Regions from separate parts of the Homo sapiens genome. Here region 2 is reported to be linked to region 1. The links are microRNA targets in miRTarBase. Many come from high-throughput screens and were not tested one by one. Region 1 holds a microRNA gene; the other region holds the end of a gene's coding sequence.
Evidence for each region. Region 1 holds the annotated microRNA hsa-miR-6798-3p (CUACCCCCCAUCCCCCUGUAG, at 1,526-1,546, opposite strand). A microRNA usually pairs through its seed, bases 2 to 8, with sites in the 3' UTR of a target mRNA and lowers its output. Matches are read on the target gene's strand: a 7mer-m8 pairs with bases 2 to 8, a 7mer-A1 pairs with bases 2 to 7 and ends in A, and an 8mer does both.

Region 2: the mRNA of EID1 is a reported target of hsa-miR-6798-3p. The part of its 3' UTR that is shown has no 7-base or 8-base seed match.

The regions. Positions count from the first base shown.
Region 1 is chr19:49,007,108-49,011,497 of GRCh38, reverse strand. It overlaps MIR6798 (microRNA 6798), which reads right to left and starts at 1,592; the gene lies at 1,526-1,592. RUVBL2 (RuvB like AAA ATPase 2) reads right to left here. Exons shown (of 15, transcript NM_006666.3): 5 at 4,351-4,390; 6 at 4,130-4,196; 7 at 1,616-1,722; 8 at 1,432-1,525; 9 at 887-1,010; 10 at 405-499; 11 at 188-306. RefSeq lists an enhancer at 1,557-2,058.
Region 2 is chr15:48,878,106-48,882,495 of GRCh38, forward strand. It overlaps EID1 (EP300 interacting inhibitor of differentiation 1), which reads left to right and starts at 29. Exons shown (of 1, transcript NM_014335.3): 1 at 29-2,068. The coding sequence starts at 72. The coding sequence ends at 635. All of the region lies in intron 4 of SHC4 (SHC adaptor protein 4), which reads right to left. RefSeq lists an enhancer at 1-283.

The sequences.
Region 1 (4,390 bases):
AACACAGTCTCTGGGCTTCCTCGGGAAGCAGAGCTGCCTCCCACCCGCCTTTTGTAAGCAAAGAGCGCACACTGCAGTCACGCGTCCCTCCCTGACCCGGTGTCAACACAGGCTCCCATTGACCCTCTGACCACACCCACTGCCCAGAGCATCCTGTTTTCCCCAGAGGCCCCTGTAGCCGGCTCACCGCGTGATGCCACGGTTGGTGGCCATGATCAGGACAGGCGCCATGTCACTCTCCAGGGCCCGGTTGAGGAAGGAGAAGCTCTCGATGTCCAGCATGTGGACCTCGTCGATGAACAGCACCTTGGATTGGGGTGTGTGTGAGAGTCACCACCCGCGTCCCCACTTCCCCGGCCCACCTCCACCCCACCACCCGCCCCGGCCATGTCCTGGGTCCTCACTCCAGGGATGATCTCCGCCTTGCCCTCCTCGCGCCACTCAGCCACCTTGGCATTGATCTGCTCACGGACTTCTGACTTGATCTCCCCTGTGTCACCTATGGGAGGCACAGGTTGCATCAGGGAAGCCAGAGAGGAGGCGGGTTCCAGGGCCAGAGTGTGGCTAAGACAGAGAAGGATGATGCCAGGGATGGAGGAAGGGGAGCAAAGCAAGGAGGGATGAGGAGCCTGAAACATCCCCAAAGAGGAGGAACAGAGGCAGAGAACACAGGAGGGGAGAGGGCAGGGCCACACCCATCACAGCACCAGCAGGGGTGGGGACGGAGCGGACTTGCAGGTGGAGAACAGAGGCAGCCACGGGCCGGAGTTACAGGAAACAGCGTGGAGCAGGTGGGCCACACTCGGAGCTCAGGAACAGAGGGAGCCCGAGGGAGGCTGCTAGGCCTGGGGCAGGGCAGGGCAGGGCAGGGCAGGAGGGGCCTCACCTGAGAAGAGCGCCAGGAAGCCCTGGGTGCGAGAGTTGATGACGTCGATCTCGTGCAGGGACACGGTGTGCACCACCTCCTTGCGTTTCTGGAGCTCCCCATCTGGGCACTGCACGAACTTGGTCTATGGGGCGGGGGTGGGGGAAGAACGGCGGAGACAGGGCAGGGAAGGGCATGAAGGGGGCCCCTAAAGCCCTCTGTCTGGGGGAGACTGGAGCTCCAGGAAATGGAGCTGGGAGGCTAAATGGGGTCATCTGGAAACCCCAGGCCCAGGAGGTAGTCAGGACTAGGGACATTCCAGAGCGCTGAGGGTCACGGGGGCTCCCGGAGGACCTTAGAAGCCACAGGCCACATGTGGCCATGCGAAGCTATAGTGCCAGGCTGAGGGGCCCTGCTGTCCTAGGGTTACAGGGAAGACCCAGGAGTACCAGGACAAACAGTCAGGGTAACAGGAAGATCCAGACCCCATGGGTCAAGGGGGTGATGGAGGAGATGAAAACACCCCAGTGCTGGGGGCGAGGGGATCCCGGGAGTCCCGGCCGCACCTGGGAGCCCATAGCGTCGTAGTCGCGGGCGCGTGTGAAGGAGCGGCCCAGCTTGGAGATCTTGCCCGTCGCCTTGTCGATGGTGATCACGTCCCTACAGGGGGATGGGGGGTAGGGTAAGGAAAGGAATGGGCCCAAGCTCGCCCATCCCCCTGGCTGCCTGGCATGGCCCCTGACTGCTCACCCGGCCTGGACCTTGTCCTTGGTCAGGGACTCAATCATCTTGGTGCCCAGGTCGTAGATGGTCTCCATCTCTGTGGTCTTGAGGGTCAGTTTGCCCACCTTGGAGCCCTGAGAGTGGGGACAAGCCAGGGATGGGGCTCAGAGAGGGCCCTGATGTTGCCCCAGTGCCCCCAGTGTTGATAAGCTTCTGGCTCTGCTCTGGCCTCTGCTTCCACAGCTTCAAAATGGGCACAACACAAGGAAGCTCTCCAGGGAAGACATACGGTGCGCTCACCAGCCTGACGCGGTGATGGCTCCGCGGCTGAACATGTATGTCCCAACGGACCATACTGGACACTTGCAATGTGTACAGCTTTCTGTATGTCAATTAAAACTCAATAAAGTTCTTTTTTTTTTTGAGACGGAGTCTTGCTCTGTCGCCCACGCTGGAGTGTAGTAGCATGATCTCGGCTCACTGCAAGCTCTGCCTCCCGGGTTCACGCCATTCTCCTGCCTCAGCCTCCCGAGTAGCTGGGACTACAGGCGCCCGCCACCACGCATGGCTAATTTTTGTATTTTTAGTAGAGATGGGGTTTCACTGTGATAGCCAGGATGGTCTCGATCTCCTGACCTTGTGATCTGCCCACCTCGGCCTCCCAAAGTGCTGGGATTACAGGAGTGAGCTACTGCGCCTGGTGAATAAAGCTCTTTTTTTTTTTTTTTTTTTTTTTTTTTTTTTTTTTTGAGATAGAGTCTTGCTCTGTCGCCCAGGCTGGAGTGCAGTGGTGTGATCTCAGCTCACTCCAACCTCCATCTCCCGGGTTCAAGTAGTTCTCCTGCCTCAGCCTCCCAAGTAGCTGGGATTACAGATGTGTGCCACCATACCCAGCTAATTGTTTTGTGTTTTTATTATTTATTTATTTTTGAGATGGAGTTTCGCTCTTGTTGCCCAGGCTGGAGTGCAATGGTGTGATCTCGGCTTACTGCAACTTCTGCCTCCCAGATTCAAGCGATTCTCCTGCCTTAGCCTCCCAAGTAGCTGGGATTACAAGCACCCACCACCACGCCCAGCTAATTTTTTGTATTTTTAGTAGAGACAGGGTTTCACCATGTTGGTCAGGCTGGTCTTGAACTCCTGACTTCAGGTGATCCACCCGCCTCGGCCTCCCAAAGTGCTGGGATTATAGGCATGAACCACCGCGCCCAGCCATTTTGTATTTTTAGTATAGACAGGGTTTCACCATGTTAGTCAGGCTCGTTTCGAACTCCTGATCTCAAGTGATCGCCCACCTCAGCCTCCCAAAGTGCTGGGATTACAGGTGTGAGCCACTGCGCCTGGCCAAAACTCAATAAAGCTCTTAATAAAAATAGTAAACAGGCAGGGTGCAGTGGCTCACACCTGTAATCCCAGCACTTTGGGAGGCCGAGGCGGGCAGATCACAAGGTCAGGAGATCGAGACCACAGTGAAACCCCGTCTCTACTAAAAATACAAAAAATTAGCCGGGCGTGGTGGCAGGTGCCTGTAGTCCCAGCTACTCGGGAGGCTGAGGCAGGAGAATGGCATGAACCCGGGAGGCAGAGCTTGCCGTGAGCTGAGATTGTGCCACTGCACTCCAGCCTGGGCAACAGAGCAAGACTCCATCTCAAAAAAAAAATTATAATAAAATAAAATAAAAATAAAAAATAAAAATAGTAAACAAACAACATGCCTAAAAAATAAAGTCTATCAAAAACAACATAGGCCCGAGGTCTCGCAAAATTGCCAAATGTCACACTTTGACATTCCTATTTTATACCCAAATAAAAAGTGTTTTTGTTGATCACAAAATCAGAAAACACAGCTATGCAAAAAGGAGAAAACAGAAATTGTAAAAAAAAAAAAAAAAAAAAAAAAAGAGGCCAGGTATGGTGGCTCACGGCTGTAATCCCAGCACTTTGGGAGGCCAAGGTGGGCAGATCACGAGGTCAGGAGTTCAAGACCAGCCTGGCCAACATGGTGAAACCCCGTCTCTACTGAAAGTACAAAAATTAGCCGGGCGTGGTGGCATGCACACACCTGTAATCTCAGCTACTCGGAAGGCTGAGGCAGAAGAATCACTTGAACCTGGGAGGCAGAGGTTGCAGTGAGCCGAGATTGCACCACTGCATTCCAGTCTGGGGGACAGAGGGAGACTCTGTCTCGAAAACAAAAAAAAAAGAGAGAGCAAATCACCTGTATCATGTAAGATGGACAGGACATGCCTTTCGGCCACGGAACGAGTTTTGAAGTCTGTTGGGTTTTGAGGTCTGTTGGGAACTCACTAACAGATCTCTCTCATTATTTTACCGCCTCAGTTTCTATTGCCCATAATGTCCTTCATAAGGGGATAAGCCATTGTCAAGTTAACTGACCTCCTACTGTAGGCATGTACATGGCTCTAGTCTGCAGCTAGAACATTCCATGGGATTCTGACCTCAGTGCAGACCTGATATCTACTCTCTCCAACCCTGGCGCTGGAGGTGGCCTCAGCAGGGTACAGACTCACACAGACTCACCGTCCCTGTTGCTGGTCGATCAATCTGGATCTCCACCACCTCCCCTTCGATGATCTCCGTCTCCTCCCTAGCCAGAGAGCAGATCTGAGGAGACAGCCTGACACCTGGACCCTCGGGAATCACAACCTTCCATGAGCTCTGGGACAAAGGACGAGCCGCCCGGGGTGCGGGGTTGCTCCCAGGCTCTGGGGTCTGGCACCCGCCTCGGGTCCCCCGCTTACTTGATGCGAACGCCGATGGACCGCCGGAAGGCCTGCGTCA
Region 2 (4,390 bases), not on the chromosome of region 1:
CGCACGAACGCACGGCCGCGCAGCATCTGTCTTGCTGGAAGCTTTTTCCTAGAGGTTGAGCGGTTTGCACAATGTCGGAAATGGCTGAGTTGTCCGAGCTGTATGAAGAGAGCAGTGACCTGCAGATGGATGTGATGCCTGGCGAGGGTGACCTTCCGCAGATGGAGGTAGGCAGCGGGAGCCGGGAGCTATCCCTGCGTCCCTCCCGCAGCGGGGCCCAACAGCTCGAGGAGGAAGGCCCAATGGAGGAGGAGGAGGCCCAGCCAATGGCGGCGCCAGAGGGGAAACGGAGCCTTGCTAACGGGCCCAACGCTGGGGAGCAGCCAGGCCAGGTGGCGGGCGCAGACTTCGAGAGCGAGGACGAGGGCGAGGAATTTGATGACTGGGAGGACGACTACGACTATCCCGAAGAGGAGCAGCTCAGTGGTGCCGGCTACAGAGTATCAGCCGCTCTTGAAGAAGCCGACAAGATGTTTCTGAGAACAAGAGAACCAGCCCTGGATGGCGGGTTTCAGATGCATTATGAGAAGACCCCGTTTGATCAGTTAGCTTTTATCGAAGAGCTTTTTTCACTGATGGTTGTCAATCGTCTGACCGAAGAACTCGGCTGTGATGAGATTATTGATAGAGAGTAGTTAGATGCTGTTAAAAGAGGAGGAAACTACTTGAGGAGGGACCCAACTTTCCGCTATCTTTTGGGTTCATTCCAAATAGTTTTGTGCCATTGAAAAACTTGACCTTCAAAAAAATTTGTTTTTCAGAATAGAACACAATAGGACAGTGACTGCACAGTTGTGAAAAAGGAAGAGAATCATTAAAGAAAAAGAAAAAAGATTTTAAGACCGTTGAAATCAATTATCAAGAACGTCCTAAAACACCTATGGCTTTGACTTTGTTATTGATCCAGATTATTTTCCTTGCATTGGGGAAAATATCTTTCATATTTGTTTGCTGTAAAGATGGTTTTGCAAGAATAAGTCATGACCAAGACAAACTGCCAATACAAAAGCCCACTGATACTAATTATATAATGAGAAAAAAATGTATCCAACTAGGACACATATCTTTTGAGTTATTTGGACTGAAAGCTTAAGAAAACTTGGAAAATTCTATTTTGTGATCTAGTCAAGCCACAGTTATCAAAGGCTACATTTTCAGTGTAAGATAAATGGATGAGTAAACTCAAATATGTATCACGTGTGCTTTGTATCTTAAGATGTGTTTCCAAGAGCATCTGAAATTTTGTTTGTACATGTATCTTGATCATTTATAAAGCCACTGTGATCTATAAATCAAGAAAATCCATTGTCATAACCATTTTTAAAAGTCAAAAATTAAGACATCCTTAATTAAAAAGTTTCAAATCTAGACACTAAATGTGTGTGAATGTACAAAGAAAACAAACCATTGCTTATGCTGTTATATACTAGAGAAATTTTGTTTTGCTTGCTGTTTTAACTTGACAGATGAAGGACTTTAGTTGAACTTCATATTGTAAGAACTGTTAATAAAAGTTGTCAAGTAAAAAGCGCTATATCTAAAAAGACTTTATGAACAGTTATTCTATCAACTTTTAAAGGTTTTAAACCTGCCCAGAAATTACCTTGGTATCTGAAGTTTCCCTCTGTCTCCTCCTCTAATTAAGCTTGTTATTTGTCATGCACCAGCATTGGAGATAATAAAATTTCTTGTTCTGTGTATTTTGTTTGGCTAATAGTATTGCATACATACTTTCTCTGTATACTACTTTCTATTGTATGTGTTAACCAGTATTAAGGGAAAATGATCCAGCTTCAGCTATCTAATTCACAAATTAATTTCTGGAAATTAAACTTTGTAAATTAAGTTTTTGCCTATAAGAATTTGCTGGTCTGGGAAAACCTGCCCTATCAATGAGTATGTTGCCGTGGTTACCTTACTAAGATGCTGAAGTTCTAGGAGAGTAATGATTACATCAGAAGGCTAGGTTCAGCAAAATAAGTGTATCAGCAGGTTTTATCATGATCAGTAAAAATGTTCCAAATGCTTCTGCTCCATTATAGCAGTAAAGAACGAATATCCAATGCAACAGGACAATTCAGAGCCTTATTTATTTTATGGTCATCCTGTCTTTTGGGGAGAGAGATCTGTAAAAGATAGGACTGTGACAAGGCTGATCAGAATTGCTCAGACACTAGCTGGGTTAGGAGGGAGAGATGGTGGAAGTAAAATGTTGGTGCTTAGACTTAATCCTACTGCCTCTTCCACTGCTTTCTCAATTAGCGTGCAGCTACGGTCAGATGAGTGTGGATAGGTAATTAATTGCATGGATGATGTAAATTAGTGTGGGTGGGGGTATGCTAGTGCACAATAAACTGGCTGGTTGTATTTACCTCCAGATCTTTATCTTTACCAGGAAAGTTTATCTTTACTAGGAAAGATAAACTCTTGGAAAAAAAAATCTGAGGTCCACAAACTAGAAGGTTGTGATTCTGTTTTTCTCTGGGACTGAGTAGGGCAAAGAGGTGGGGGTGGGAAACACTATTCCATCTGAAGGCCCATCTTGGGGAGAAAAACCTGGGCTCTGCAATTGACTTGGTTGTTTTTCAGTCTTAAAAATAGGCAGTAAGCTGAGAGACAATGAAAATTGTAAATACTTACTTGTATTTATTGAGGATAGAAAACATTTTAACACCCCTTTTAGGGGTGTAAAATTATTTGTGTTTCTTTTACATGCAGTTGCCACAGACAAACCAGACTACTTGGTTAAAATTTGGGTTCTACTATTTATTAGCTCAGTAACTGGGAAATTAATCTCTCTGGCTCATGTCCTAAACTGAAAATAGGAACAATTGGATGTACCTTACAAATTGTGAGGACTAAATGATGATGTGTGTGAGAGTGTGTGTGTGTGTGTGTGTGTGTGTGTGTGTGTGTGTCTTCATTTAAGGAAGCTAGAGAAAGGAGTTCTGGGGAAATTCTGATTTTGCAAGGTAGGGGATTTAAAGAAGATTTTGAGTACACGGTGTGATTAGGGAGAGTTTTCCAAATTTATCCATACATATTATAAATGTTCGCTTAGATCAGATATCCCATGTTGACTGTCTTCAGGCCACAGATCTATTTTGTTTGGTTCATGCTTATAATTTTAAGAGACCAACATCTCAGTACAGAGACAGCAGCTAAAAATCTAGATTCTTACCTTTTTATTATTATTTTTTTAAAGTAAAAGATCTGGGAGCCTTTGACCTATAGACCTATGTAGCCAACAAACAAACAAAAAAACAAAGCAAAAAAAAAAAAAAACCATCTGATTCACCTTTAGATAAGGAAGATTCTGTTTGCCAAGTCCCTCAGTGTTGTCTCCCCAACACAGAGGCCAGGTAGCACTTGACATTTATCATTGGGCCTGCACCATTGTTTTTTCTTGTGCTTGCACAGCTTGCATTACCTACTTGGCCTCTAAATATCTCAAGTTGCCTCTCCTTGTAGAGACTAAAGGATGTCTCAATTTTTGCCTGTTTTACCTTAACTCTATTACCCTTCTGAATTCAGTACCTGTTAGAGTTGTAGAAATCAGTAAAGAATTAGTGGGAGTGTGAGCAACTGAGACTCTGACTTTGCTTGAGGCCCTAAAATACTATATTAAAGTATGTCAATAAAGTCTGTTGCTTGAATTTTAAAACAAGGAAATACCTATAACTTACCCTTGCAAAAATGTATTCCCATCCTGAAATATGGTAATATTTAAAAATTGCAAGCATCGCATGTTTAATATTTTCTGCCTCTGGAGGTTTGTAAAATATTTTCTGGGAATGAATTGTTATATTCTTGATGTTCTCAGTGGCCAAAGATAAATGTGAACTATCCGTTCCATAAATGCTATCATCTATGAATATATCCATAAATTTGAACCTTTGTTTTCAGTCCAAAGCATATCTTAGAAATTAAGTGGGGATGGGGAAGGCATTAGTATTTCTTTGTATTTATTTTAGAACTTCCAGTGGTAGCATTAAGGATTTAATTAATCCTTTTCTTGTGCTGTATCCACAAGGTCTCTCATCTTTGCTGCCTTCATTTCTTAAACATTTTAGTTGCCTTTCTCATGGGAAATAAAGCTTCTTGAGTTGAGGCCTCTACAGTGGCACATCTCTCCCCCATATCCCCCAGCCATTTCCCCTAGGCCTGCAGGAAAGCTCAAAATAGTTATTAAAAATCAGCCCTCAGGTCTGAGATAAATGAGATCTTAACTTTGGTCCCCACTCTAGCAGTGGGCTGAATACAACCCATTCCATGCCACCAGTGCAGAAAAGCTATGGATTACTTTCAAAGGCACATCATATTACTATAGTTACTGGTAATGAAAACCACCCGTTATCCTCACCTCTGTTTTGCCTGAAAGATTATGGAT